Homo sapiens: one gene and its partners. The protein of the gene in region 3 purifies or fractionates together with the protein of the main gene of each other region. This does not show direct contact. Each region holds a gene or a part of one and is shown on either strand. Other genes may lie near its edges.

The links.
Region 1: the proteins of TREML2 (region 3) and SQLE purify together in Homo sapiens (affinity purification with mass spectrometry; 2 studies listed by BioGRID and IntAct, with this or other methods). This does not show direct contact.
Region 2: the proteins of TREML2 (region 3) and PDZD8 purify together in Homo sapiens (affinity purification with mass spectrometry; 3 studies listed by BioGRID and IntAct, with this or other methods). This does not show direct contact.
Region 4: the proteins of TREML2 (region 3) and DHRS7 purify together in Homo sapiens (affinity purification with mass spectrometry; 3 studies listed by BioGRID and IntAct, with this or other methods). This does not show direct contact.

Annotation. Positions count from the first base shown.
Region 1 is NC_000008.11:125,001,491-125,008,513, reverse strand, and holds part of SQLE (squalene monooxygenase), read right to left. Parts: intron 5,339-7,023; coding exon 5,086-5,338; intron 2,990-5,085; coding exon 2,809-2,989; intron 1,124-2,808; coding exon 1,027-1,123; intron 1-1,026. UniProt on the Homo sapiens protein: Catalyzes the stereospecific oxidation of squalene to (S)-2,3-epoxysqualene, and is considered to be a rate-limiting enzyme in steroid biosynthesis.
Region 2 is NC_000010.11:117,372,432-117,379,522, reverse strand, and holds the start of PDZD8 (PDZ domain-containing protein 8), read left to right. Parts: upstream 1-4,082; 5' UTR 4,083-4,295; coding exon 4,296-5,167; intron 5,168-7,091. UniProt on the Homo sapiens protein: Molecular tethering protein that connects endoplasmic reticulum and mitochondria membranes. PDZD8-dependent endoplasmic reticulum-mitochondria membrane tethering is essential for endoplasmic reticulum-mitochondria Ca(2+) transfer.
Region 3 is NC_000006.12:41,198,145-41,205,713, forward strand, and holds the start of TREML2 (trem-like transcript 2 protein precursor), read right to left. Parts: upstream 3,006-7,569; 5' UTR 2,865-3,005; coding exon 2,810-2,864; intron 286-2,809; coding exon 1-285. UniProt on the Homo sapiens protein: Cell surface receptor that may play a role in the innate and adaptive immune response. Acts as a counter-receptor for CD276 and interaction with CD276 on T-cells enhances T-cell activation.
Region 4 is NC_000014.9:60,162,379-60,170,241, reverse strand, and holds the start of DHRS7 (dehydrogenase/reductase SDR family member 7 isoform 1 precursor), read left to right. Parts: upstream 1-4,843; 5' UTR 4,844-4,932; coding exon 4,933-5,065; intron 5,066-7,863. UniProt on the Homo sapiens protein: NADPH-dependent oxidoreductase which catalyzes the reduction of a variety of compounds bearing carbonyl groups including steroids, retinoids and xenobiotics.

The DNA of each region.
Region 1 (7,023 bases), on a different chromosome or scaffold from region 3:
GCAGAGAAAACATTCCAGTCACCTTCATTAGAGGACAATTTCTAAGAGGTGGTAACCCTATGGGGAGCAGTCCAGAATTACATGTTTTTTACTACGATAATTTTTTTTTAAAAAAAGGAAAAATTGGCCGGGTGCGGTGGCTCACGCCTGTAATCCCAGCACTTTGGGAGGCTGAGGTGGGCAGATCACCTGAGGCTGGAAGTTCAAGAGCAGCCTGACCAACATGGAGAAACCCCGTCTCTATTAAAAATACAAAATTAGCCGGATGCGGTGAAGCATGCCTGTAATCCCAGCTACTCAGGAGGCTGAGGCAGGAGAATCGCTTGAACCTGGGAGGTGGAGGTTGCAGTGAGCCGAGATCGCACCATTGCACTCCAGCCTGGGCAACAAGAGTGAAACTCCGTCTCAAAAAATAAAACAAAATAAAATAAAATAAAATAAAAGGATAAATTGTTTTTAAAAAGATTCTCTTACTATTACCTGAGTTAAATTGCTCATTTTATCTGAATCATTTCTTTTATGTTGAATCTTGCCTTCTTTCCCCTGCTAGTTCCCCTCTGCTTCTCTGCTGATGTATATTACTGTTTCAAAAACTATTCACATTAGTTCTGTTTAAAATGTTTTTTGCATAGCATTCTGAAGTCCTCTAAAGAACAATGTGTTGCAATCTGAAACCCATCCTGTTGCATATGGCTTAGAAAGAACTCAGTTCATTTGATAAATAACACAGGCTGAGTATCTCTAATCCAAAAATCTGAAATCCAAAACTTTTTGAGCAGTAATGTGACAAACAAAATACTCATTAGATCATTTCAAATTTCAGATTTTCAGATTAGAGATGCTCAACTGGTAAGTATAATGCAAACATCTGAAAAAAATAAAAAATCTGAAACACTTCTGATCCCTAGCATTTCAGATAAGAGATACTCAACATGTAAACCGGTAAGCCTACTTTTTTAAAGGGGTAAGTGAAAAAGCAGGAAAAACAACATCTCTTAGGAAGAGGTGACATTTGGTATTTCTCACCTTGATATCTCCAGTCTCTTTATCCTTGTACTGAACTCCCATCACAACATCATCTTCCTCTAATAACTGTAACACAACACCTTCAATAAACTTTGCACTAAAGAATAAAAAAAAATACATTTCTAAAGCAGCACATTTCAGCAATTTAAATTAAATATAAATTCCTTATCTCCAGTTTATCCATATAAACTGGACATGCATGTGTGTGCAAACACGTGTCCAATGTGTGTTTTTTATTTTCTAATTTATCAACATTTAATACATATTACTAATGATTACATTAGTAATCATTAGTAATCATTAAATATTTTAAAAATATTTTAAAAAGTAACATTGGATTTTCATCTTAATTTGTTAAAAATAAATTAATTTGTTAAAAAATAAAATATAGGCAGAGAAACTTTACATACCCTCATACATTCATACACAGAGGGGAAAACAAGTATTGGAATGCATCCTGCAAACTGTTAAGAGTAATTATTTCTGGCAGGGCACGGTGGCTCACACCTGTAATCCCAGAACTTTGGGAGGCCAAGGTGGGCGGATCACAAGGTCAGGAGATCAAGGCCATCCTGGCCAACATGGTGAAACCCCGTCTCTACTAAAAATACAAAAATTTGCCAGGCGTGGTGGCATGTGCCTGTAATCCCAGCTACTCGGGAGGCTGAGGCAGGAGAATTGCTTGAACTCGGGAGGCAGAGGTTGCAGTGAGCCGAGATTGCAACACTGCCCTCCAGCCCGGGTGACAGAGCGAGACTCAGTCTCAAAAAAAAGAAAGAGTAATTATTTCTAGTCAGAAAGATCACAGGTAATTTTTATAATCTTTATATTTGGGACTATTTTTCCATTTTCTTTTTTTTTTTTTTTGAGACCAAGTCTCGCTCTGTCGCCCAGGCTGGAGTGCAGTGGCGCTATCTCGGCTCACTGCAACCTCCACCTCCTGGGTTCAAGCAATTCTCCTGCCTTAGCCTCCCAAGTAGCTGGGACTGCAGGTGCGTGCTACCACGCCTGGCTAATTTTTTCTTATTTTTAGTAGAGACGGGGTTTCACCATATTGGCCAGGCTGGTTTTGAACTCCTGACCTCGTGATCTGCCCACCTCAGCCTCCCAAAGTGCTGGGATTACAGGCATGAGCCACCGCACCTGGCCGATTTTTCCATTTTCATACAGTGAACATACTCTTCTTCCATGGATATCAAGTCTTTTTAGTCCAAAGGATTAAGTCCACTTGCTTCTTCACTTGCTTTGTCAATACTTTAGTCTGTGTCAGTCACATGAGGGTTCTCACGCTTAAAACTTCTTCAATTAGTGTTTTAAAGGTTACTGGTAAATATAAGTTAATAAACAAGAGAAGAAGCCAGTCCTAACAGACTGGGTCTTTAGTGAGAATGAAACAGGGATTTCTCCTTGCAGTTTTGTATCCTGACTTCTAATAGAAAGTATCGTAACCACAAACTCAAACTCCAAAATGTGCACAAATGGACTTATGCCTTAGTTACAAATATATCCTCTAAATTCCCGTCACATAAAAATTATGTAATTTTCATTTAGTCAAAGGAGAACTCTTCATAGTTCCATGTCAAAGGAAAATTCTCTATATGATATTCTTAACAAAAGCACTGAATATCTAACACTCTTTTGACTGACAGTTTATTTTAATATACATATGTTCTAGACTATGCCCCAAAAATTCATTAAAATTTATAAAATCTTATTTGTACAAAGGTCAAATTTAAATGCATTGATTCTTTAGTAATTATATATTTGAAACTGTGGTCTTACTTGGGCTCTGCCATAGCTGCTTTCCGGAGACTCATGATGAATCTTCCGTGATGGAAAGCTCTTCCACTCTGCACTTGATTGTTTTCTGACAGAGGGTAAGGAATCTGAACCTCTGATTTGCTTTCCTGATCATGAATCATGTAACCATTTACAACCTGGGCATCAAGACCTTCCACTGTATCTGCAAAGCAATCGAGTTCAAAACAATCAATTCTGTTAACACACCCAGCGTTAAACTAAGAACCAAAGAAGACACACACACATCAAAAATGAGTCTCTGCCTTCAAATCTGGAGAACTGAACAAAACTAATGTAACTATTTCAGAAACTGTGAATGCTTCTGGAAGTCAATGAGAGTCTTAGCAAATCTGTAATATCATTTAAAGATAACAACATAACTATTTCAGGTCTGTAATTCCACTTCAACTTCAGAAAGAAAATGCAACATGAAATAAACCATAATCCTCTCCTGAGTAAACCTGTTCTGCCATAAAGACATAGGAACACATTTAGTCCTTCTTAACACTTCTTTCAATGTATGAATATGTAGATTTGTCACCAAAAAGAAATAAAAATAAAATAAAACCAGTATGGAAACTCAAAAAAAAACCCCAATTTATATATAATGACTGAATATATGAAAAAGTAGATTTTCCAAACCAAATGGAAAGGGTAGAGTTATCCCCCAACTGTTGATGATTACATACTATCCATTAAAAGTGACTCAGGACAAACTGCAAAGAACTTTTTAGTACATCAAATAATTTAAATGGCAGCAAACAAAACACTGAATTCATCAGAATCATGTAAAAACTTCTTTCTTAAATCTAAAGCAGCAAAAGCAGTTGAAAAATAAAAAACTTTCAATAGAAAATATCACATTTTTAAAGTGCCAACCGAAAATTAGAAAGTTAAAAAATTAATTTTAAAAATAAAAACTAAAACAATACTTTGGGAAAGACATATGAAATAGAACAAAAGATTAATACATGTATATATAATAAAATTTACTCATTAAAAACCACTGGAAAAATATTAAGACGCCAATAGTAATGGACAAAAACATGTATGGATGATTCATATAAAGCAATATAGAAACAGTGAACAAATCAGAAAAAATGTTCAAACGATAAAAAAAATTAAGTAAAAATTGAAACAACAGGACACCATCAAAATCACTGATGAGATTATGATAAAACTGATAAATTCATATACTACTGGTGATACTATGAACTAATATTATATTTTAGAAAATATAACAATAATTATCAAGAACCATGAAGAAATTAGCATCCTTCGATGTAATAATCTTACTCTTGGAAATCCATGTAAGAAATTCATCCTAAAGACATAATATTTAATAATCTTTAAAGTTACATGCAAGAATAGGTTCACTATAGTGTTACCTAAAAAAGGATAACTGAAAATAACCTAAACATTCATCTAAGTTTGAAAAGTGAAGTACATTATGAAGTCAACTGAAAAACAACTATGCTTGGGCTTAAAAAGATACTGATAAAGAATGGTTAACAGTATTGGAAATATGTTTCTGTCAAGTGAAAAAGTGGACTCTAGTATATATATTAGTGACATAAAATGTTCAAATATGGTATTGACTGGATGTCTGTGTCCTCCCAAAATTCCTAAGCTAAAACTCTAATCCCCAATGTGATGATATTTGGAGATGGAGCCTTTAGAAGGTGATTAGGTCATGAGGGTAGACTCTCACGATAGGATTAGTGCCCTTGGAAAAAAAGACAGGGGAGGGCTTGCTTCTTTGTGTCTCTCCCACCTTCCCCACCCCACCCCACCCCACCACCCCATCCCCACACAAAGTAGACAGTGCATAAATATTTCCTAAATGAATAGCCAGTGCTTAAAAAGCACTGGTTGAATGGATGAATGGTGCTTAAATAAAAGATTCTAAGTAATAACACTGTAACAAGTATACAACATACCCTCTACAAATGACAGTTCCCTTCGCCTTTCACAAAATTTAATGCCCTCATTCTAGGATTTTCCAGTCCTTAATTTTGACCATTACAATCTTTTGGCCATTTTATTATATCTCATTAAGTCTAATTCACATCTAATCATACTATTAAATGCTTATTTTATCCTTTGCTCTCACTTTCATGCAAATTTGTTGGTAAATGAGTATAGAAAATTTTATAAATGAAAATAAAATGGAATACCTTCTTACTGGTCATAGGATGGTCTAAGTGAAGAGTGCTTGTTCATACCACGTAACTCTCCTGAAAATCAATATGAACCTACCTCCAAGACCAAGGTCTTTGAGAACATGATAACCACCCGGCTGCAGGAATTCTCCAACTATTCTGTCAGGCTCTTTTAAGTCTCTCTCAATGACTGTCACCTTTCTTCCATCTCTGGAAAGCACAGCTGCCAAAGCAGAGCCAAGCACGCCAGCTCCCACGATGATAACTTCTGGGTCATTCTGAGAAGATGTTGATGTACAGGCAGCTGTTCCTATTAAGCTTGTTTCTGAAATATTGGTTCCTTTTCTGCGCTGTTTAAAAAAAAAAAGGTAAACTAGGTATCCAAATTTGTTAGATTCAAATCATGCTACCGCTATGTGGACACACTGGACTTTTGCATCCTAGGCTAAAGCTAGATACTAAATATTATCAAACCAAACAAATTGTTACATTTTAAAATCTAGATAATATATAAAAATCAATGATATCAAAATATTCGTTAAATAAAAGTGTGTCATATTATCCCAATAAAATTAAATATTTATTGTTTTCTAAACATGATATTTGGAAAATGTTATACAGACATATTTAGAAATCCACACTGGGCCGAATATAATAAATGTTTATAAGGGGCTTCAAAGACTTATTATAGGGCAAACTGTATCATTAATAACTAAATTCTTCAAATATATCCTGGGAATCGACAAGATGCAAATCACTTACAACTTCTGATTTGAGTTCATGTTACAAACTATTCGGCACCTTTTAGACATTTTCTTTTTTTTGTTTGTTTTTTTGTTTGTTTGTTTGAGACTGAGTTTCACTCTTGTTGCCCAGGCTGGAGTGCAATGGCGCAATCTCGGATCACTGCAACGTCCGCCTCCTGGATTCAAGCAATTCTCTGGCCTCAGCCTCCCGAGTGGCTGGGATTATAGGCATGTGCAACCATGCCCGGCTAATTTTGTATTTTTAGTAGAGACTGGGCTTCTCCATGTTGGTCAGGCTGGTCTTGAACTCCCGACCTCAGGTGATCCTCCTGCCTCAGCCTCCCAAAGTGCTGGGATTACAGGCGTGAGCCACTGCGTGCGGCCTTAGATATTTTCATTATTCATCTTTATTTTCTCTTTCTGGATTTTCATTTGAAAAATCTATGTTAATTTAATATCACTTTTATATGACAAAAGGATTGTCAAATCCTGCCTACCAATCTATTAATTGAAGATTATCTAAATAAACAAAATTACAAGAGAAGAAATAACTCATACCGACTCTTAGATTTGACTTGTTTACAATTTTGGTCCTTAACATATAAGCACATATTTAATTTATCCCTCCTTTTTCCCCATCCTGATACTCTAAGAGATCCTAGTCAAAGAGGTGGTCCCCAAAAAAGGAACAAGGAAAAACATTAAACCTGTCACTGGCTGAACTGACAGCAAAACTTTAACTTTGATCATAAAAAGATGCAAAGTCTTGTTTTGAGAGATTTATGACCACTAAGAACAACAGTGCACAGTGGCTTTTTAAAATGAACAATTCAATTTTGTAGTATTTCTTCTTGGTAGATGGATTCACACATTTGAATACATTTCAGATACAGAATTGCAAGGAACCACCTTCCTTGAGTTCTTTGACCTTAATGATTAAGATAAGACTAAATGCCATTTGAAGGGGTTTTTAAAAAATAATCAAGCAAAAAGGAAGACGAAGCCTAAAATCCTTTAGAACTTTACTCTGTGATTCTAATATCCACCCAGCATTCTTTTACCTCTATAGTGGACTGGGAATTTGTCTATTCTTTTTTTTTTTTTAATTTCTCTCAGAAAAATACTTTTCTGTCCTTTTACTATGGGAAGATCTCAATATTCTACTCTTCCCATTAGTATGTCTTAATGGCCAGAACTGACTATATTTAAATTACTGTAGGGGGCAAGACAAGCCCCTTTTGTCATCTTAACCAAAAATGTGCTTCTTCATAAGTTTTTCCTGTTTTATA
Region 2 (7,091 bases), on a different chromosome or scaffold from region 3:
CACCAGCAGCCCAGAAGAGGCAAGCTCCTTGGTCATAAATTATTGGAGTAGCACAGCCAATTGGAGATTTCTCTCCCAGGATTTGAGATTGAGCTTGCAGGCTACCTTAGCCATCAGAGACATAGGACCCTCTAGATCTGGATAGAGAGCTGGTGCCTCCCAAAGTGCCTGTGTGCTGAGGGTAATGGGGAAGTAGAAACCAAGAGCCTTCTGGAGTAAAATGGCACAGACCTGCAGGGAGATGCAGAAATAAGATACTGGGTAGGGGTGGGGGCAGAGGAAATGAGAGTGAGAGACAGTTTTCTTACTCTAGGATTTCTATGAACATCTTGCAGCTGAGTTCCTGGAGATATTCCAGCATCCTTAACGTGAATCCAATTTTAGTTGTAAGTTAGCCTGAGGTAGTTGCTGTTCCTTGCAATCAATTGTCACTGCCCCTGAACCAGAAGGCTCTGCTCCCATAGTACCTTGCATGTGCCTCTATTAGAGCACTATCTCCTATCATCAGAGTTATGCAGATGTGTGTCTGCTTCCACCTGGGGCGCAGCGCCCCTGTTCATTCAGTATCCCTGGAGCCTAGTACTTGTTGGATGCTCAAAAAATAGTTGTGGAATTTGAATTCTCCCAGTTCACAAAATGGTTTGTTGATGTATCATTTGTTAGGCAAACCTTATAAACTCTATGTTTCCCACCATATTTCACTATATTTGCATTATTTTACATCTTTCAAAAAATCAAATTTGCTTTCATGCTACTCACAAACTTTGCACATTTACGTGGTTTGGCTTTCTCATTATTTTTCGCGGTCACCAGGAATGATTCATAGTCAAGCAGTGGTCCATGCATCCCTCTAGTTGGTGAGAATGTCTTATATGCAACCCATCTTCCAGTATTCAACTGACTTCGACCTTGAAATGGATATTTCCATGAAGGCTGTTGGGGCAGCTTAATTTCAATGATGTCATTTAAAACACATTAAAAAGTCAGCAGGGAGGCTAAGCACAACTGCTTCCTTTAAAAACCTATTCAGAATCATCGATCTTCAGAGCTGGGGCCAGTGGTTCTCAGGCTTTTGAGTTTCTATGAACCAGCATTAATATAAGAAAAAAAGGGAGGGGTTGCTGAATTTATCCTTTTCCAGAAAATAGCATTAAAACAAATTCGTCTCTATTAACATAGTATAATTTCATAAAATAAAGGGCATGCTAACACCAATATTATCCAGAGCATTATCTCCTAACTTATCAAACACAGTCAAGTGTGGCTTAACAACAGACATAAGTTGTGAATCTTTAGGCAGTTTCATCATTGTGCGAACATCAGAGTGTCCTTACACAAACCTAGATGGGAAACCCTACTACATACCTGGGCCATATTGTATAGCCTATTGTTCCTAGGCTACAAATCTATACAGCACGTTGCTGTACTGAATACTGTAGGCAACCATAACACAATGGTATCTGTGTATCAAAACATCTCTAAACACAGAAATGGCATAGTAAAAATACGGTACTATAATCCTATGGGGCCACCATCCTATAGGCAGTCTGTCGTTAACAAGAACATCCTTCTATGGTGCATGACTGCATATTTGACTTTACAAAAACTCATGATATTTTGATTTCTAAATAATGTTTGAAATATTTAAATATTTCTAAATAACATGCTTAACACTGTGCTTGGCACATGGTCAGTTCTCTGTATTATTATTATTAGTGTTTAATCAATGTTGGTCATGTTTCACACAAGGGAGAATACTTTTTTCTTCCCAAAAGGTTTGCTGAGCTCTTTCATGGATTTGAAGTGTGTCCCTAAGGGGTCAAGTTTTGCTGGGGAATGCAATGACTCTGACTCTGTAAAACAAACTGAGAAGATTTAAGATTCTCACAGGTATTCTGAGGAGCGCAGAAGTGAGAGGAGAAGAGAAAAGAAAGGAGTCTGCAAGATGAAGACTGAGGACTCATTCCCATGAAGACCACAAACTTTCATTGTTGAGGAGGGAGGTGGGTGAAGAATATTTTGCAACTCGGGATGGATCAATATACAGTTTGAGGGTTTTATATTTCAGGAATGTGAATAACTTCTTTCATGCCACCCTACTTCCAGCTTCTGTAACATTTATAATATGCAATGTGCATGAATGTTATGAATAGGTTTACGGTGGAAATCATAGAAGGGTCTACATTTCTCATTTGAGTTGAAACAGTGTAGATCCCAGAGAGCAGCCCAGAAGCAGAGGCCAGGAACCAAAGGGGACCAGAGAACAGAAGTTGCCAAGATCTCCGAAAAATCTCGGCCATGGTTTGAGCATGGTTCCTCAGCAGACACCTATCTTATGTCTTCATAGTAATGAAAGCCATTCTGGTTTCGTATCTGGGCATGATTCGGTAAGGCATGATAAGCCTGGTTCCGAAGTTCTGTACCTGTCCCAGCTGGGTCAGGTCTATTTTTGTGGTAGAATCACCTACAGTTAAGAGAATCCTTGGCTTGGAGGTTTTCTTCTTTTTTTTTTGAGACAGGGTCTTGCACTGTCGCCCAGGCTGGGGTGCAATGGCGTGATCTTGGCTCACTGCAACCCCCGCCTACCGGGTTCAAGTGATTCTCCTGCCTCAGCCTCCTGAGTAGCTGGGACTACAGGCGCGCACCACCACGACCGGTTAATTTTTGTATTTTTAGTATAGACGGGTTTCACCATGTTGGCCAGGCTGGTCTCGATCTCTTGACCTCGTGATCTGCCCGCCTCGGCCTCCCAAAGTGCTGGGATTACAGGCGTGAGCCACCACGCCCGGCCGGCTTGAAGGTTTTCAAGGGCTAGAGAGGAGCCCTGCCCTGGCTCCTTAGGTACAGCCAGAATCGGCCTTTAAGGTATGGGATATCTGACTCCTGCAGGACTGGAACTCCACGTGCTTGGAGGGATAAGCATTTATGATGTAACCACTAAGTAGTCAGAGGGCAGGAGGAGTAACGCTGTTGCTGGGCAACCTGGCTTAGCTTCGTGGCTTTGGTTAAGGTGCTACTCTATGCAAAATTCCTTGCCGTCTTCCCTAATCCGCCTCCCCAATTCTCCCTTCCTGAACATTAGGGAACCCACTGGCCTGCTTACAACTGAAGCAGTTTCTGTGTTAGGGCAGAGAGTAGTGATCAAGACATTAGGGTTTAGTGTTAGATAAACCAGGCTCCACTCTGCGGCCCCACGCAACCTCCCCACGCTCTCTGCACCAGTGTTGGCATCTGTCAAGTGGGTGGGGGCTAACAGTGAATAACTGCCTCATAGATGGACTACCGGCTTAACCAGAGACTGACAGCGGGTCGCATATTAATCTTCCAATCACTTGGCAAACTCGTTTCACTATGCATCTCTCCTCCTGGCTGTTCTTTCAACTTCCTCCTCCCTGAAATTTCGAAGATCCACCTCGGTGGGAAAGTCATTCCGCGTGGCGCGCCCTTTCCCTGCGTCCCTCCTTCCCAGGGCCCACCCTCCGCGGACGCAGAGCGTCTGCCGGGGGGACGGCAGGTCCGCGATGGCTGCCTCTGAGGCAGTCGGTCCCCTCTCGCCGTGGGCTTGGGAAGCGTCCGAAAGGCCCGCTCGGATCGTCTGCGGTGCTGCCCGCAGGGAAAGCGCCGCTGCCAGCCGGGCTGTCACGGGTGCGAGTGGAAGAAGCACACCGCAGGATGAGCGACGCCGCTGCAGAGGTAACCGCGGGGACTGCGGCCAGAGACGGGGGATGGGCGCAGCCGAGGATAACGGGATGGCCGGCATCCGGAACGCGTCAGGCCCGCTCCGCCGGACCGCCTTATCCTCCAGCCCGCGTCCCCAGCCGTCCTCCCAGATCCCGACCGCAGCTCCAGAAGTGACGGCCACGTGGGTGGCGGCGCGCGCCGCGGGGATTGGAATGTTGGCGTGGGGGGACGAGGTTGGAAGGGCCGCAGAGAAGTAAAGGAGGACCCGCGTCCGCGTGCCCGGGCGCCGACTGCTGGGCGACGCCGCCGGGAGCGAGCACGCCTCTGACGTCACGCGCTGCTCGTCCAATGAGTGGAGGCCTGAGGGAGGCGCCGGTCCCGGCCCCGCTGCCGCCGCCGCCACACCGGCCCTTCGGGAGCGTCTGAGGAGGCGCGGGCCGCTGCGGGCTCGGGCGCCGCAGCGCGCCGGCCCGAGCCCCTGGACGAGGCCCACGGAGCCGCTCGCCCCGACCCAGCCGCCCGATGTCCTCAAAATGGAGGCAGCGGGGGCGGCGGCGTGAAGAAAGCGGCGCTGTGGGCGCGGGAGTAGGGGCCCGGGCGGAGGCGGTGGCGGGATGGGGCTGCTGCTCATGATCCTGGCGTCGGCCGTGCTGGGTTCCTTCCTCACGCTCCTCGCCCAGTTCTTCCTGCTGTACCGCAGACAGCCCGAGCCGCCGGCGGACGAGGCCGCCCGCGCGGGCGAGGGCTTCCGCTACATCAAGCCAGTGCCGGGCCTGCTCCTAAGGGAGTACCTTTATGGCGGCGGCCGGGATGAGGAGCCCTCCGGAGCGGCCCCTGAGGGCGGCGCGACCCCCACCGCGGCCCCCGAGACCCCCGCCCCGCCGACGCGGGAGACTTGCTACTTCCTCAACGCCACCATCCTATTCCTGTTCCGGGAGTTGCGGGACACCGCGCTGACCCGCCGCTGGGTCACCAAGAAGATCAAGGTGGAGTTCGAGGAGCTGCTGCAGACCAAGACGGCCGGGCGCCTGCTGGAGGGGCTGAGCCTGCGGGACGTGTTCCTGGGCGAGACGGTGCCCTTCATCAAGACCATCCGGCTCGTGCGGCCAGTCGTGCCCTCGGCCACCGGGGAGCCCGATGGCCCTGAAGGGGAGGCGCTGCCCGCCGCCTGCCCCGAGGAGCTGGCCTTCGAGGCGGAGGTGGAGTACAACGGGGGCTTCCACCTGGCCATCGACGTGGACCTGGTCTTCGGCAAGTCCGCCTACTTGTTTGTCAAGCTGTCCCGCGTGGTGGGAAGGCTGCGCTTGGTCTTTACGCGCGTGCCCTTCACCCACTGGTTCTTCTCCTTCGTGGAAGACCCGCTGATCGACTTCGAGGTGCGCTCCCAGTTTGAAGGGCGGCCCATGCCCCAGCTCACCTCCATCATCGTCAACCAGCTCAAGAAGATCATCAAGCGCAAGCACACCCTACCGAATTACAAGATCAGGTGAGCTGGAGGTCGGGGAGGGGGCCTGGCTGCCGGGAACCCGGGCCTGGGCGGGACGCTGCGTGGATTGGGAAGGGCAAAGGCTCATTTCTGTCCTGGCGCCTGCTTCTGGGGCCTTCCCACCCTGGACAGGGCCCCAGATCAAGGCGAGTCGTGAACACTTGCTTTGCTTCCGAACGGCATTGATAGGAGCTAGAAACCTTTTCGCGTGTTCATGGGGACTCAGGGTGCTGTCAACGCGGGCAGAATCGTCTCCTTTTATAAGCAGCATATTGGAAATGGAAGGGAAGCCTACCCTAATCCCCAGGAGTCGCTTCTGGGACTGTTGAGAAACTCTCCCTCTATGTGGTTGCTGCATTGAGGGCAGCCGCGTCACTGGCTTTGCAGCATCCCCTTGGCCGCTTTGAGAAATTGTTCCTGGACACAGTACACGCGTGAAGAGTGTGCTTATAGCCCAGGTCTGTGCTAATTTGACATTGCAAGCCACTTTTGCTTTGATGGTTTGACACCTTTCAAGGCAGAGGTGGTAACTCTTGCAAAGGAATACTTTTGTGGGTTTTTTTTGTTTTTGTTTTTGAGACAGAGTCTTGCTGTGTCGCCCAGGCTGGAGTACAGTGGCGCGATCTCGGCTTACTGCAACCTCTGCCTCCCAGGTTCGAGCGATTCTCCTGCCTCAGCCTCCCAGGTAGCTGGGGTTACAGGCGTATGGCACCACGCCTTGCTGATTTTTTTTTTTTTTTTTTTTTTTTTTGTATTTTTTAGTAGAGACGGAGTTTCACCGTATTGGCCAGGCTGGTTTCGAACTCCTGACCTCAAGTAATCCGCCTGCCTCGGCCTCCCAAAGTGTTAGGATTACAGGAGTGAACCACCGCGCCCGGCCCGGGAATACTTTCCACAGCAGATGGGAAAGGAGTTGGGAGCCTGTACATAGTGTACTTTACATTTTGTATTAATGTCATTTGCCCATTTTGGGTAGATTGTAGAACACAGATCCAGACTCTGCCCATCAAGCATTTACTCTCTGTGACTGTAAGTTCTTCTCTCAAGGGACCTGAAGTCACTGTACAAATTGTATTTTAATGCTAGGTAGTGATTTTAATTTTGTTTAAGCCTTCCAGCATCTGATGGCTTAAATTTTGTGGTATACAGTTTTGAGTAGTATATAAATTTTGTTTTAATATTGTAGGAGTGGAAGGGGAAAGACTTTTTTAGGGCTAGAGGTGGAGTGGAAGGTGCTTTTTCTTTTGTAAAAAGCTGAATTTTTAACTTCTCTTTCGGTCCTCCTTTAATTTTGTATTCACTAAGACATTTGAGCCTTTAAAATTTTGCCCTTTATTATAAAATTATGTCAGTCTTGTATTTTACTTACCTAATTTTACTTGCCTTTTAGTGGAAGTTGCCTATTTCTGGATCACTAATTTTCTACCAGTGTCAATTTTCAGGAGCAAGATAATCCAGAAATATTTTGGGTTTGGAATGGATTATTGACTTCTGTATGTGGCAGATGTACCTTACCAATTATGTTTTGTTTAGGCTAACAGCGCAGAGTGACAGTTTAAAACTTGCGTGGCAGGAGAAATTTACTTTGTAATGGAAATATTTCCATAGATTTGCGGAGGGTGGTGAACTGGTTGTTCACTGTGTTCGATTTCTGGTTCTGTGAAGTAGAACATACTTTATGAAACCTACTTTTAACCTCTGGAATATCAGTGATTAAATTATAACTCGGTTCTAGTGTTTAAGCAGTGAGAGATGTTTATTTATAGCAGTGTGTTGCCAAAAAAGTCATGAGAAAAAGTTGCTAGAAATTTTGGTATTCTATCACAACTTCAATTATGATGTTTTCTGATAGCTTTCAGTTAATACAATTTGACTAGATTATTATTTTGAAATTTGTAGACTAGCCAATGACAGTGAGATTACA
Region 3 (7,569 bases):
ACAGGATCCCAGAGGTGTTGCGCATGCACCAGTATCGGCCTGAGTCCTGGAGCTTGAGGGCCACCATGGTGATGTTGACCACCTTGGCCTGGGCATCGTCCTGCAGCAAGTAGCGGGGCCCTTTCACCCAGACTCGGGCAAAGCCAGGCTCACACTTCTTCTTCCTGATTTTGCACCAAACCTTGCCCTCCACGCGGTTTTTGTAGCCCTTATAGGAGCACTGCACAGACAGAGTCTCCCCTTCAAGGAGCCTCACTTTTGTGTATACACTGTCAGCAGAGGGGCCTGTGGAGACAATACTTATTGAATAAGGTCTGGCAAGAGGAGAGGAAGAAGACATCATGAAAGTTGAAGATCATGGTGAAGGGTAGAGTGGATATTGTCCTGCTGTCACAGAACCCACAGATTGAGGGGGAAATACAGCCCCGCCTTCAGGGAGCTTGCCCCAATCTGAAGGGAGGTGAATGGGCCCTGAAAACAGCTAGCTTCCAGTATTACAGTGGAGACACAACCCCCGCTCTCAGGGAGCTTTCAGTCTGATGGAGGAGGCAGGTATATCCCTCAGTGAGTCCCCAGTCTAATGGAGGAAACGCAGCATTTACACTCGGAGCTCCATCAGACACAGCCCCTTTCCTCATGGTATTTTCTAGTCTGATGGGAAAGTGACAAGCTCTGTCTTCAGGGATTCCCAGGGAATTCATTTTTGTTTTGTTTTGTTTTGTTTTGTTTTGTTTTTGAGACGGAGTCTCGCTCTGTTGCCCAGGCTGGAGTGCAGTGGCACGATCTCAGCTCACTGTAACCTCCGCCTCCTGGGTTCAAACTATTCTCCTGCCTCAGCCTCCTGAGTAGCTGGGACTACAGGTGCCTGCCACCACGTCCGGCTAATTTTTTGTATTTTTAGTAGAGACGGGATTTCACCATGTTAGCCAGGATGGTCTCAATCTCTTGACTTCGTGATCCACCTGCCTCGGCCTCCCAAAGTGCTGGGATTGCAGGCGTGAGCCACTGTGCCCGGCATCCCAGGGAATTCTTGTGGGAAAAACCCAGGTCATGCCCTCAGTGAGACAGATGCAGAGACACAAACACAGGTCATTAAGTTGTGAAATTTCAGTGCCCAACTAACTAGGTAGATAAGAAAATCTAGTATTTGAAAATATGATTAACAGTTATTTATTTCACAAATAGGTTCACTTAGTCCTCTTTAAATAATAACTCTCCTTAGTTCATTCCATCTGGTGTTTAGTTTTAAAATATTCTAGTTACATAAAACCCATAGATCAAGCCTGTCTAAATATACATGTAAACAAACTCCCAATGGAGTGTGAACCACAGGATTCTACAATTATTCACTTTCCACCTGCAATATCTTTCTCTCTATGCTGAGGAGTAAGATGTGGTCCAAGCCTTCATAATCCACAGTCTGGTAGAGACAGAGCAGAACTGGGGTGTGCAGGGTGACTCAGGGGACAGAGAGAGGGAGAAAGCTGCCTTGGGCTCCCTCCACCCCTCTGCCTGCCTTAAGCTCAGCTGACTCTTCTGATAATTTCACCCCAGAGTCTTCCAAAAAAACCACATATAAAAAGACTCTCCCCCATAGTAGAGAACAGAGAGCACACATTTTGGAGTCAAAATAAACAAGGGTTGAAACCCTGTTTCTACCACTTAGTGGTGTGATTAGGTCACCTGTTTGATACAGAAATATCAAAACAGACACTTGACTGATACAGAAATATCTCTGTTTCTTTATCAGTCAAGTGAGAATAGCACCACACCCCTCACAGGTTGCTGTGAGAATTCTGCCCCAGGTCAGTGCTTTGCACACAGTGCATGCTCAACTCATGCTTCCTTTTCCCACATGCTGGGGCCTCCCAGTTCCCCCAATGGAACCCAGAGCTGTGACAGTCAAGGGCCCAGAATCCAGGACATCTGTCCCACCAGAATCCAGGATATCCGTCCCAAGTCCCAGCCAGCAGCCACTAGAGCTGAGGCTCTGTGTGAAGCAGCACCCTCTCTAAGCATCCCTCTGTCCCTTGCAAACTAAACAGAATGATCCAACTTCATTATTTGGTGGATGAGCCCAGGATTTCTTAGCACAAGAGAGACCCCTTTCTGCCCTGGCAGTGGGAAGCTGTTTCTCTACCCTCTGGGAGGTGCAGAGTTGGGTGACCTTGGGATGGGTCTCCAGGGCAATGTCTTCATGTGTGCCTACACCTCCCACCCCTCTCACAGGCAGTGGTGAGTTTTGCCAACCCCCACCATGCCCAGAACTGAACAGGAAGTGGTAACTTGGTTGCCATGGCAGCGAGAGGGGCAGGAATGGGTGAGGTTCCTCAAGGAGCATTGGTATCTGTGAGGTGGGAAAGGCATTCACACACTGGTCCCTTCAGGACAGAGGCAGGGACAGGATGTGGCATCAGCATTTCAAGAAAAATGTTCAAATTCAGTTCAAAACACACATGATGCAATGATTGCTGTCATAACTAAGCAGGGCTTCCTGACAGAGGCCAAGCAGAGAAAGCTATTTGTGTGAGGAAATTGAGGGCTCTGCTTTAAAGCCTGAGGAAGCCTAGCAGATAAAGGAGCCAATGCAGAGAGGGTCCAGAGCTTTATCTTGGCTTGGGAGGCCTGGGTTAGCTTCGCCTGGGGCCTGATATTAGGGTAAAGAGCTAAGTCAGCCCTAATCTCCTCCTTCCCCAACCCACAAAACACTAAACAAGAAAACTGCTGGTAAGGAGGGTAAGAAAAAGGCCCTGAGCTCCTGCCTCTGTACCCACTCCCTCCTCCACAAGTCAGCCCCTTCTCCCCTCACCTGAGACGCAACCCTGTGGCCACAGCAGCAGCAGCAGCAGGAAGGCTGGGGCCATGGTTCCATCCAGCTGGGCAGTGTCAGGCCTGGAGATCCAAGGTGAGGGCCCACCCGACACAGGATGTGCCACCTGGGCCTGCCAGGGAAGGACCCGGGGTTCTAAAAGTGAAGCTGCCCATTTAGGGAAGTGAGGCAGTGTGGGACCCACTGCCCCCAGCCAACCGCAGGGATTCATTGAGCCTATTATGAGGGCGGTGCTGGCAGCTGTTTCCGCCCTTTTCCTCGGAACTTCAGGCAGGTGTGGCTGCTCCACCCAGTCTGGGGCCCCAAGCCGGGAGGACTCACAGTCAGAGGGCTCCCCGCCCTCCCCAACCTCCCCCAGAAACTGGTCCCTAGGATCCAGCAAGGGGGCTGGGGTGAGGCTTCTGGAACGTCAGGTATAGACCTTCCTGGAATCTTCTGGGCTCAGAGACCCAGGGGTGCGGGCTCTTAGGCTGAGATGGAGCATCTCAGACCCTAGTTTCTTACATATATACATTCACAGGGAAGTTCTTATAAACTCTCATTCATTCATTCATTGCAGATTCTTTCTGTTCCTTCCTCTCTCTCTCTCCCAGGCTCCTGGCTGCTCAGAACAGTCACTTGTGTTCACTGTTGCAAATAACCTCTTACAGGCTCACTTGAAATCTTACTTTTGTCAAGCGGGAAAAATGCAAATTGTTAAGACTCAGGGCATAAATTTTGGGTTGAGGGAGGGGTTCCTGTACTCTCACACACAGGTGTGCATGCACATGCACTCACACTCACAGTCTCACTTTGTCTTTTATTCACTTTCACACACACACACACACGCCCATGCACACAGTCTCACACACACCCCAGCAGCCTCTCCTTTTCCCTATCCATACGTCTCCTCTCTCTGTCCCTCTCCCTGCCTCTCCTCCTGTCGACTCTACTCACCATCAGCTCCCTCTAGACTCCTAGTCCCTCGTGCAGGCTTCCTACAGCCTCCGCAGTACTTCCCCTCACCCACCTCATCTCAAGACCCCCTTCCTCCCCTGCCTCCAGCCTACGTCAGCACGCAGGCAAGTGCCCTCCACTTCCTCCTGCTCAATGCTATCTCGCCTGTACAGCCACCAGCTCCAGTGGAAATGACCCAGCACTAGGCCCAAGACCACACCCTTCACTTACCCCAAGGCCTAGAATCAGAAGCATCAATTTTTGATGTCCGGTACCTGTGTCATCTGCTCCTTCAGTGTGTGGGGACCCAGCTGGACTCCCGTGATTATGTATGCTCCCCCTACTCACTAGTGCCATGTTTCTACTCCTTAGATGGGACTGTCAAAAGGTAAACTGAGGCACAATAAAATTTTAAACAGATTATTTCAGCAAACAACAATTCATGAATCAGGCAGCTCCAAACAGAAGAGGTTGAGGAGCTCCACTGGGGGAATGCAAGGGGAAGACTCCTACAGGACAAGTAAACTGAAGAAAATATTTAATTAGTTATAGTTATATAGTTCCCTTATTTGGCCTATCCTGTTGGAAAGACCCTAGTTAATTATATAAGTTTCTTTTGATTGGTTGAGCTTAAGTTCTATTTTTCCTTAATATACACATTTACAAGAAATAGCTCGTGTTAAGTTTCACTGATATTTGCAAATCAAGCAAAGTTGAGGTCACTTATGAGGCCTAACTGTTTTTTTAATTTTTGCTCAGGGACTCTTCAGGCCTGGTCTCCATTTTCATTAATTTTAACAGGACTCAGAGCAAAAAGTCCTCAAGCTTGCATGGCCACAATCTTAAATTGACCTTGAAGCCCCAAGCTCCAAGCAAAGAAGTCTATCTCGGCTGACCCTAAGCTTTTGTAGTCTCTCAACTCATTCACTCACTCATTAATTCATTCATTCATTTGTTCATTCCCACAACCTCATTGCTATGCATGGGGCTAGGTAGGCACTGGGGGCGTAGGAATGAGACACGATTGTCACTTGAGACCTCTCAGCTCACAGACGTGTTTTGTTTTCCTTATTCACCCTTCCTTTTTCAATGTTTCTCACCCAGTCCTCAGAACTTCCTGAGCTCCCTGAGTTCAGGGGCCATCTCCCCTCCCCAGCACACACAGTAAGTTCCTCCATCCCTTCCCCCATCAGAACAGTAAGTTGCTTCAGGAGTGGGGGATTTATCTCTTGTGGGGACTTTATGCGCTTGGAATCCATGATTCTATGAAACTGATACAGTGCGCCCAGCACTGAGCCAATCATCGTCTAAAGTGTGACCCTTGGGATCACTGTGCTGATGAGGGTAGAAAGAATCAAACATTCATTCGCTGATCGAGGAAGTATGCACTGGATTCAATCTTTCTTAAGAGAAATTTGGAAGCATTGGTCAAAATCATTAAAAATACGTATACATTAGACTTTTACATCTATCATTTGATTTAATACAGCAGTGTATTTTGTCTTTATATTTATTTTTCCCATTTAAAAATTAAGGCCTAATTTACATACAGTACTATTCACCCTTTTCAGTGACGAGTTCTGGGAGTTCTAGAGACTTGTATCCAATGCCGTAATGGAGACAGAGAAGAGTGCCATCATCCCGAAAAGCTTTCCTCTGCTCCTTGTTAGTCATCCCTTCAGTCCCAGACAAACACTGATCTGGTGGGGTTTTTTCCTGTCATTTCTCTCTTTCCAGAATGGAAAAGTGAAGCACTTTATGTTGATTTATTCTGGTGAAGTCCAATATATAATTTTTATGAATCAATTTTTATGTCATATCTAATAAATCTTTGCTTAACCCAAGGTCACAATGACTTTTTTCAACAATTCTGTGAGCTATAATTCACATAATATAAAACTGACCCATCTAAAGCATACAATTCAGTGGTTTTCAATATATTCACTGAGTTGTACAACTAACACCAATTTTGCAGGATTTCCCCACCCAAAGAAACCCCATGCCCGTTAGCAGGCACTCCCTGGATCCGTTTACTGCAGACTTGGTGGCTTAAAACAGTATTAAGTTATTGTCTCGCCATTCTGAAGGCAGAAGTCTGAAGTCAGTTCACACTGTATTGAGATGAAGATGTCGACAGGGCTGCAGTCTCTCCAGAGACACTAGGGAAAAATTTGTTCCTTGCCTTTCCAGCTTCAGGTAGCTGCCAGCATTCTTTGGTTTGGGGCTGTTTTACTCCAATCTTCAAGGCCAGCATCTTCAGTCTCCCTCTGCTCCATCTTCCCATCACTTTCTCCTCTTTGTGTTCAAATCCCACTCTGACTCTCTTACATAAGGATACATGTGATTGCATTTAGTTCCCATCTACGTAATCCAGGATAATCTCACCATCTCAAGATGTTTAACTCACTCATATCAGCAAAGATCATTTTTTTTTTGTTTTTTGCCATATAAGGGTAACAATCACAGGTTCCAGGGATTAGGACACAGATATCTTTTAAGAGACCATTTATCAGCTTACCACAGTCCCCATTCCTACAGTCCCAGGCAACCACTAATATTTTTGTCTTTCTAGACAAAAATATCTTCAATCAAAAATGCCTTTATCAATTCTGGATATGTCATAAAAACATAATTGAACAATATGTGTTCCTTGTGACTGGATTCTTTCATTTGGCATGTTTTCCAGGTTTGTCCATGTTGTAGCTGTACTTGTGCTATACGTTGTATTAATACATCATTCCTTTTAAAGGCTGAATAATATTCCACTGAATGGATATATATGTTTACCATTTATCAGTTGACAAATATTTTATTTGTTTCCACTGTTCAACTATTATAAGCAGTGTTACTATGACTATTCATGTACAAGTTTTTGTGTGGACATACGTTTTCATTTCTCTTGAGTACATAACCAATAGTAGAACTACTGGGTCATATGGCAACTCTATGTTTAACATTTTCAGGAACTACCAATAGTTTTCCAAAGTGGCTGCAAATTTTACACCCTCTCCAGCAATGTATGAGTTCTCATTTCTCTACAATCTCTCCAATACTTGTATTGGCTTTCTGTTTACAGCCATCCAGTGAATGTACTTAAGTTTTGAATTGTAGTTACCTAATGACTAATGATATTGAGCATCTTCATCTTGAGCATGCACAATTTGCTCATTTGTATACCCTTGGAAAAATATTTATTCAATTGTGTTGTTTGTCTTTTACAGCATTTGAACAATGTTGTGCCACATTTTTCTGGCTTCAATTGTTTCAGATAAGAAATTCACTACAATTAGAATTGGTATTCCTTTATAGATAATTATTTCTCTCTGGCCATTTTTACGATATTTTCTTTGTCTTTACTTCTCAGAAGGCTATCTATGCTGTGTCTTGGTGTGTATTTCTTTGGGCTTATTATATTTGGGATAAAATCAGATTCTTGTATTTGTAACTTTAGGTCTTTGGGCAGATTTGATTACTTTAGACGTTTCTTTGAATACATTTTCAGTCTCACATTTTTTCTCCTTTCCTTCTGGGACTCTGATGATGCAAAGGTTAGCTCTTATGTTAATGTCCCGCAGATAGCTGACGTTCTGGTCATTTATTTTCAGTCTGTTTTCTCTCTGATCAGACTGAGTAAATTTTCTCAGTCTGCCTTCCAGTTAACTAATTACATCCTCTGTCATCTCCACTCTCCTACGGAGTCCACGTAGTCAGCTTTTAATTTTGGTTATTGTCGTTTTTAGTTCCCACATATTCTATTGTCATTCTGTTCCCAGAAGAAGAAAAAAGAGTAAATGGAGCAGAAG
Region 4 (7,863 bases), on a different chromosome or scaffold from region 3:
AGTATTATATGGTGGTTCAAGAGCAAAGACTGAAATTAGACTACCTAGGTTCAAAGACCCTGTCTCCTAGCTGTGTGACCTAGGGCAAGTTACTTAATCACAATTAAGCTTCCTCATCAGGGAAATGGGAATTAAAATAGTACCTAATTAACTGGATTATTGTGAAGATTAAGGGATTTAATATATATAAAGCACTTAGAATAGGCCTGGCAATTAGAAAGCATATGGACAGGTTAACTCTTGTTGTCTTGGTTACTTCTTGTGGCTCCTGTCAAGATCCTACTAGAAAGAGATAAGCCTTGGTCTTAGATAGCTGGGAACAGCATACGGCTTTGTTAAAAGAGATCACGCTCCTCACTGCTCTCATGCCCCATCTCAGCAGACAGCAATCCAAGACTGCTTAGGGTTCGGAATTACAAAACCAAATTCCCTGCTAAGGCTAAAGTTGATCTGAACAAAAGTAAGGGCAAGGCAAAGAGAATAGACATTAGACAGGGACCTGAAAGGATCCAGAAATGGGACTTTACATCCCACAGAGGAAACAGGTAAGGTGTTTCCATACAGTGACAGAGAATAGATCAGTGGCTGCCTAGGGAAGGGGTGGAGGATGGGTGGATTTCAAAGGGTCACCCCTTTTGGGGGTGATTGAAATGTTTACCTTGATTGTGGTGATGGTTTCACAGGTGTATATATTTGACAAACTCATCAAGTTGTATACCTTAAATATGTGCAGTTTCTTGTACTCGAATTATACTTTAGTAAAGGTATAAACAAGAGAGAGCAAGAGGTAGAAGCTGCAATAGCTTCTGTGACCTATCCTTGGGAGTCACACACTCATCATTTCTGCAGCATTCTGCTGGTTACAGTGATCAACCCTGATACAACCTGGGAGGGAAATACATGGTGGTTTGCACACAGGAGGTGAGCATTGTTGGATCCATCTGGGGGATTTCTGGCCATCCCTCTATGTGGAGAGAACAGTATGTACAAGGCCTTGAGGTGGGCTGGTATTCCAGAAAGCCTTAACTGATTAACTCTACTCACCTCTGCTGAAAAGTTGACTGTTACTTGGTGCAATGGTTTTTTTTTTTTTTTTTTTTTTTTTTTTGGTTTCTTTTGTTTGTTTGTTTTGTTTTTTTAAGACAGGGTCTTGCTCTGTTGCCCAGGCTGGAGTGCAGTGACACCATCAGTCTCGGCTCACTGCAACTTCTGCCTTCCAGGCAGTCTCAAGCAATCCTCCCACTTCAGCCTCGGTGCAATGTATGTTAACATATCATCTGTCACATCTTCCAAAATTTGAGTCCCAGGTTCTCCAAAACTTCAATGGGTTAGTTAGACTAACCACTTTCAATGCCTAAGTGTTCTAATATGTCAAGTTCTCCTCTGACCTTATGCTTTGGTTTATGAAGAGTGAAATTATGAGGAGTGTCAGCATGTTTGCAAGCCAATGGGATGGAGTATGATTTAAGAAGCAAGAAAGAATTTTGTTTTTCTTAAATCTGAGACCATAAATTTCTGTTCACTCTGCTTATCTCCAAGGCTGGTCCTGGCTGGAGAGGGGAGAAAAAAGAGAAGGAGAGGAAAAAGCATTGATCAGTTTTAGAATTTTAAGAAAATATTTGCATATTTTAAGAAATTTAACCTAATTTTTTTAACTTTTTACTTTAAAATGATTATAGATTCACAGGAAGTTGCAAAGATGGAACAGACGTGTACTCTGTACCCCGTTCTCCCCACTAGTAAATTTTACATAATTTTAGAACAATAACAGAACCAGGGAATTGGTATTGGCAAAATCCACAGACCTCGTTCAAATTTCACCAGCTTTGCATGTACTCATGTGTGCATGAGTGTTTGAAGTTCTAGATTAGAATAACAACCACCACTACTAAATCATGGACAAGATATATAAAGGGAAGTTTGAAACAGAGCATTTAAGGGAGAGAGAATGAGAGCTATAAACTGCTTATGTTTAAGAGACCCAAGATACTGTGGAAATTGGCTAATCTAAACAAAATATCAATGCACTGATATGGGGAACTGCATGTGGTGAACAGTGCAGTGAGATATTCCTATTGAGGGATCCCATGAGATTACTAAAGGTAAGAAAGTAAGTTATATTTTCTTATAAATAAGACTCTAGGTAAGACCTTGTCTGCCTGAAGAATATCAGAAAACTAGACCATGACCTGAACGCTTGTAGCTGGGGTACAGCCAGGCAGGTGTAAGCCAGAGCTTGTGGAGGGAGGCTGCTAATAGATTGCAGAGCTCCTCTCCACCGTGGCCAGGTTGCAGGATTTCTGAGTAAGGGTGCTGTGAGCTTTTGGGGCAGGGCAATTCTTTGTTGGGTATGTCTTTACATAGTGCCCAGATCGTTAGCACTCTGATGACACCCTGGCTAGCTGGCACTATGGCCACTGTTCATCCAACACATTTCCAAAAGCATCTAAGGGATGTGAAAACATCCTCAATCAAAAACCACAAACCCCTTATTGTTCTTGAGGAAGAATATTCCCTCCCTAGATTCCTCAGTCCCTGTTTCCACTCACAGTTTCCACTCACTCTTTTTTTCCCCCGCCTAGGGACTGCCGATCTTGGAGGATCTGGATTTTTAAAGTTATTTTTGTATAATGCTTTTGTTATGGAAGATGGCAATTGCTTACGCACAACTGCCTTCATCTTAGCTGACCTGAATGGGCCTTAGCTGCCATGAATGGGCCTTAGCTGCCATGAATGGGCCTGACCCCAGACCATCAAAAGTGACCATTACTAAAAGGAGGGAAGGCAGGGTACCATTCTATTACATCTGGAATTAAAAATGAAGGTTACCAGTTATAGAAAAGACTTTCGGACTTTATTCAAAGCATTTTAATAATACTTAGAGAAGATTGATTTATTAAATGCTAGCAACTCTCATTTTAACATTAACTTCCGAACTTCAAGGAGGTTTTAAAAAATTGAATTTTAATTTTTAATTTTTGTGGGTACACAGTAGGTGTATATATTTATGGAGTACATGAGATACTTTGATACAGGCATACAATGTGTAATAATCACATCATGGTAAATGGGGTATCCACCCCCTCAAGCATTTATCCTTTATGTTACAAACAATCCAATTATACTCTTCTGGTTGTTTTAAAACATACAACTAAATTATTATTGACTATAGGCACCCCATTGCACTATCAAATACTAGGTCTTATTCATTCTTTCTATTTTTTGTATCCGTTAACCATCTCCACGTCCCCCCCAACCCTCCCACTACTCTTCTCAGCCTCTGGTAACTATCCTTCTACTCTCTATCAAGGAGGTTTAAATTTCAAGGAAAGGAGAATTCAATCAACGTGGGCTTATTGCTTCTCATGTCAACACTAAGCTATGTATTCCAGACTCTTCAAAAGAAGCATCAGATTTGCTACTTTATTTCAAGGATTCTAAAGTTCCATTGGAACAATACTATATTAACCCTGAAAATAATTAAAAAACAATTTCAGATATAGTTCAGAAGTAATTGTGAAAAGAGGTGAGATTAGGGAAAGATGACTCTGAGTCCAGATAACCCCAAAAAGCTTTTTAGAGAAGGATGAGGGTGGGGAGGCAGGTAGGGGGTTTATAATAGGATTTAAAAAGAGAAGGAAGAGCTATTTAAGGAAATTTGATTACTGCAAGTAACATTCTTCAAAACATTTAAAGAAAAACAAAAGTTTGGCAGGCAAGACTAGAAAAAGAAAACAACACTGGGGAGGGAAGTCACTGCTTCTTTTATTTCCATGACTGTTTTAAAGTCATATTTAGTTTCAGCCAAGGAAGAGCCTTTGACATCAGAGCACACAAAGTACTCTAGGAAATGAAGAGGATGAAAGTTCTACTGCATCAACGCCCAGAACTTTCTCCATTTGGCCACAGGTCGTTCTCATACATGGCCTAGTTTCTATGCACTCTAACTGGGTCCCTCTGAGGCTTGTGAATGGAAAACCCTCTTGCTTTCAAATGCTTGAAAACAAGAAAGATGCTACTATTGATGCCTCAAATACATGTAGGTATTTAGTGGGAAGCAATTAAATGTTTTGAAGGTCATTTCAAACGGAAATTAATCAAAAACAGTATTTTACTCTTTTGTGTATTAGAGTAGGCAAGACCTTGGTGTTTTCATTACATTCTCTGTTTTTATTTGCTGTTTACATTAGGATGTGAATAATGGCTTGGGTAAGGGGAGGATTTGGTACCAACCTAGGCTTTGGTTGCCAAACAGACACCAGAGTAAATTTGTGTGTGGTCAGAATCAGGTTGTAAGGTGCCAACACAGCACATGGCTTCAGTCTTTTTTTCTCTAATTGTAAAAGGACCTTGTCCCCATGGAGGGACCATTGCCTTGGCTTGTGGGGTCTTGAGTGATAGCCACAGTCTTTCTTCAGCACTTTCTCGACCTCATGAAAAGATACTGAAGCTTGAAAAGGGGATGTTCTTTCTGAATAGGAATGGAGAAGAGGGGCCAAGCAAGAATGATTCTATCTGTCTCCTGGCCGTTGATAGTGTCCCTGTACAGAGAGGAAATAACGTAGTATAATATGTAGCTTATGTTTGAATCAGCTTCTTTAAAAATACTGGAATTTTATTTATTTATTTTTGGTAGACACAGGGTTTCCTCATGTTGCCCAGGCTGGTCTCGGACACTTGAATTCAAGCAATCTGCCGGCCCCGCCGGGTGTGCCGCATGAGGGCGCGGGCCGCCCAAGGACCGCGAGTGGGGCCGCGAGTGCTGAGCCCGGCGCGCCCGAGCCGCTCCTCCTCCCGGCCTGCTCCCTGGGCGGAGCCGGGGCAGTGCGGCTCTGGGCTGGCCGAAGGGGTGGCGCTGCGATCCCGCAGGGCAGCGACGCGACTCTGGTGCGGGCCGTCTTCTTCCCCCCGAGCTGGGCGTGCGCGGCCGCAATGAACTGGGAGCTGCTGCTGTGGCTGCTGGTGCTGTGCGCGCTGCTCCTGCTCTTGGTGCAGCTGCTGCGCTTCCTGAGGGCTGACGGCGACCTGACGCTACTATGGGCCGAGTGGCAGGGACGACGCCCAGGTGAGGACCGGCCAAAGCCTCTCCCGAGTGGGAGGCCGGGCTCGGAGCTGCCGAGGCGTGTCCGGGTCTCCGGGGGTTCTGCAGTGATCCCGGGTCCTTTGTGGGTTGCGTGGAGCTTCCCGAAGGCCCGGCTGCCCCTTACGCAGGGGCTGCGGGTTGGGGAGGAAGAGGCGAGGGCTAAAAAGCCCCTTTGTCTTCTGTACTGGTCGGAAGATGGCATGGACTTGCCATTCAGGCTAGGAAACCTCTCCAGGGAGTGCCAAACTGTTAAGAGAGCACTGGAGTCGGCGGTGCTCCTGAGGACTCTGACATCTTACGCAGGACTCAAGGGATTCTGGTGTTGTCTCAGAGGACGATACTTTGAGAAACAGTGAGCGTCCCCCTGCGTTTGTAAGGGAAACTCCTTTGTAAGTACCGGAAGCCCGGTCGTTCTACTACCTGAAGTAGTCTGTCCTCCACTTCCCACTCCTGCAGTTTTGAAATAAAATCTGAGATAATCCGAAGTCCTTCACCTACTTACTCATTCTAGTCAAACACTAGAAAGAACTAAAAATGGCAGTTTGCTGGAGCGAGATCATTATTGGCATACTGCCTATCTCACTTTATCTGTGTCTTGCTTAATATTTGACATCGTGTACATTTGCTGTATGTTGGCTCAGCGCTTTACACACATAACATTTAACTTTTACAACAACTCTTACAAGGTAGGCATTATTAATCTTATTTTCCAGATAGGGAAACTGATGTTCAGAGAAATTAAATGACCTACCGAAAGCTAGGCTTTGGATCCTTAAGGACTTGGGGAAATGGGGTTTCCCTGGACCAAGTTTCTGGTATAAAAATACTCAAAGCATGTTACAAAGTTTGCTTGGAAGAGATAGTAGCTCGAAAGATAGACTATGTTTGGGGGGGGCGTTATGGGTTGGGCGTTGAGGGGGGTGATATTGATCCCAAGGTGAGAATTGGTTCCTGTGGACAAAAAAAAAAAAAAAAAAAAATCTGGTAATACAGTGGTTTGTGCCCCTCCAAAGCTTAACCCCACCCGAGAAAATATTATTCCTTAGTATTTCATTTTTCTGGTTGGGTTTTCTTGGGTATAGCATGTGCAGCACTGACATTGAGTTCACGAAAAATACACAACATGGACGCCACAGCAGTGCTACAAAACTATGGCAAGTGATTGGGCTTTCTCCTTTTAAAGCAGGAATCCCAAATACTGCACAACTTCATTAACCAAGGGCTTTCTCTTGATCGATTGTTCCACCTCAGCGGGGGAATATGTGTGCCTATTGGCTGCCATTGGCTGCCTTGCAGACGTTGTTTGTGTTTGATCTTTAGTGCTTTTGTGTTCACTTGGACTTGGAGAATTAAACGAAAATAGATTATATTTTATTATTTAATCCTACAAAAAATATTCAACCCATCAAATTATGTCAAGTGCTAAAAAGCAAAATTATTGACAACATCTGAATGAATATCTCTAAGCTACTAAGTTAAAAGTTATTTTCTCATATTAAGGAAAAGTTAAAAGTTAAGATCATTGAAAATTTTAAGAAATTCATTTAATATTTTCAGTTGTGTTTTGTCGGAAAAGAACAGTTTGAAGGATTTTAAATTTAATTACATTGTTATCATTATGTAGTTATATAATTTGCAAATTTGCACATGTAGTTTGATAAATTGCTATTTATCTAAGTAAGTTACATAAAAGTTATTCAGCAAAAATCTGGCGTGGTGGCATGTACCTGCAATCCCAACTACTCTGGAGGCTAAGGTAGGAGGGTCATTTGAGCCCAGGAGTTCAAGACCAGCCTGGGCAGCATAGTGAGACACTGTCTCAAAAACCATAAAAATGTTTTTCAGCAAATACAGTTATAAAGTTAGAAGTTAATAACTTTTAAATTTTAATTTAACATTTAACTTAATTTTAAAATTTAGTCATATGCTTATTTAGTCATATGCTTATTAACTAAGGAGTAAGCTTTTTTTCTTTTTCTTTTTTTTTTTGAGACAGAGTCTCGCTCTGTTGGCCAGGCTGGAGTGCAGTGGTATGATCTTGGCTCACTGCAACCTCTATCTCCTGGGTTCAAGTGATTCTCCTGCTTCAGCCTCCCTAGTAGCTGGGATTACAGGTGCGTGCCACCACGCATGGGTAAGTTTTGTATTTTTAGTAGACCTGGGGTTTCGCCATGTTGGCCAGGCTAGTCTCAAACCCCTGACCTCAGGTGATCCACCCCGCTCTGCCTCCCAAAGTGTTGGGATTACAGGCATTAGCCACTGCGCCTGGCAGGAGTAAACTTTATAGAACTCCTTTTATGTATAAAGCACAGATATATGTACAGTACATAAATGATATACAGTATATCTGTGGAATTAACATTTCACAGGAGAGTTTTAGGGGAAAAAAAAGTCTAAAAAGACTCCTGGTGGAGGTAGGGAGTGAGAAAGAAGAAAAGATTAAAGGAAAATTGAAATAGACTCAGATTCCCAAAACAGCTCAGACTGGAGAGATGGGCAGACTCTATCAAGATGAAAAAAGAAAAAAAAATCCTTCTTGACTTCTCTGTAGGTTTATTATTTTTTGTCACTTAAAAAAATAGCACACTCACATAATACAAAAGTAAAAATACAAAAAGATATATAGTAAAAAGTAAAGAGCTTTCTCTGACCCTTGTGCCCTAGCTACCTAGTGTGCTTCTCTCGAGGCAGCCACCATTTCCTGCCTCCTCTGTATCCGTCTAGAGAAATTCTGTGCATTTCCAAGCATATATCTCACATGGTGATTTTTTTTTTTTTTT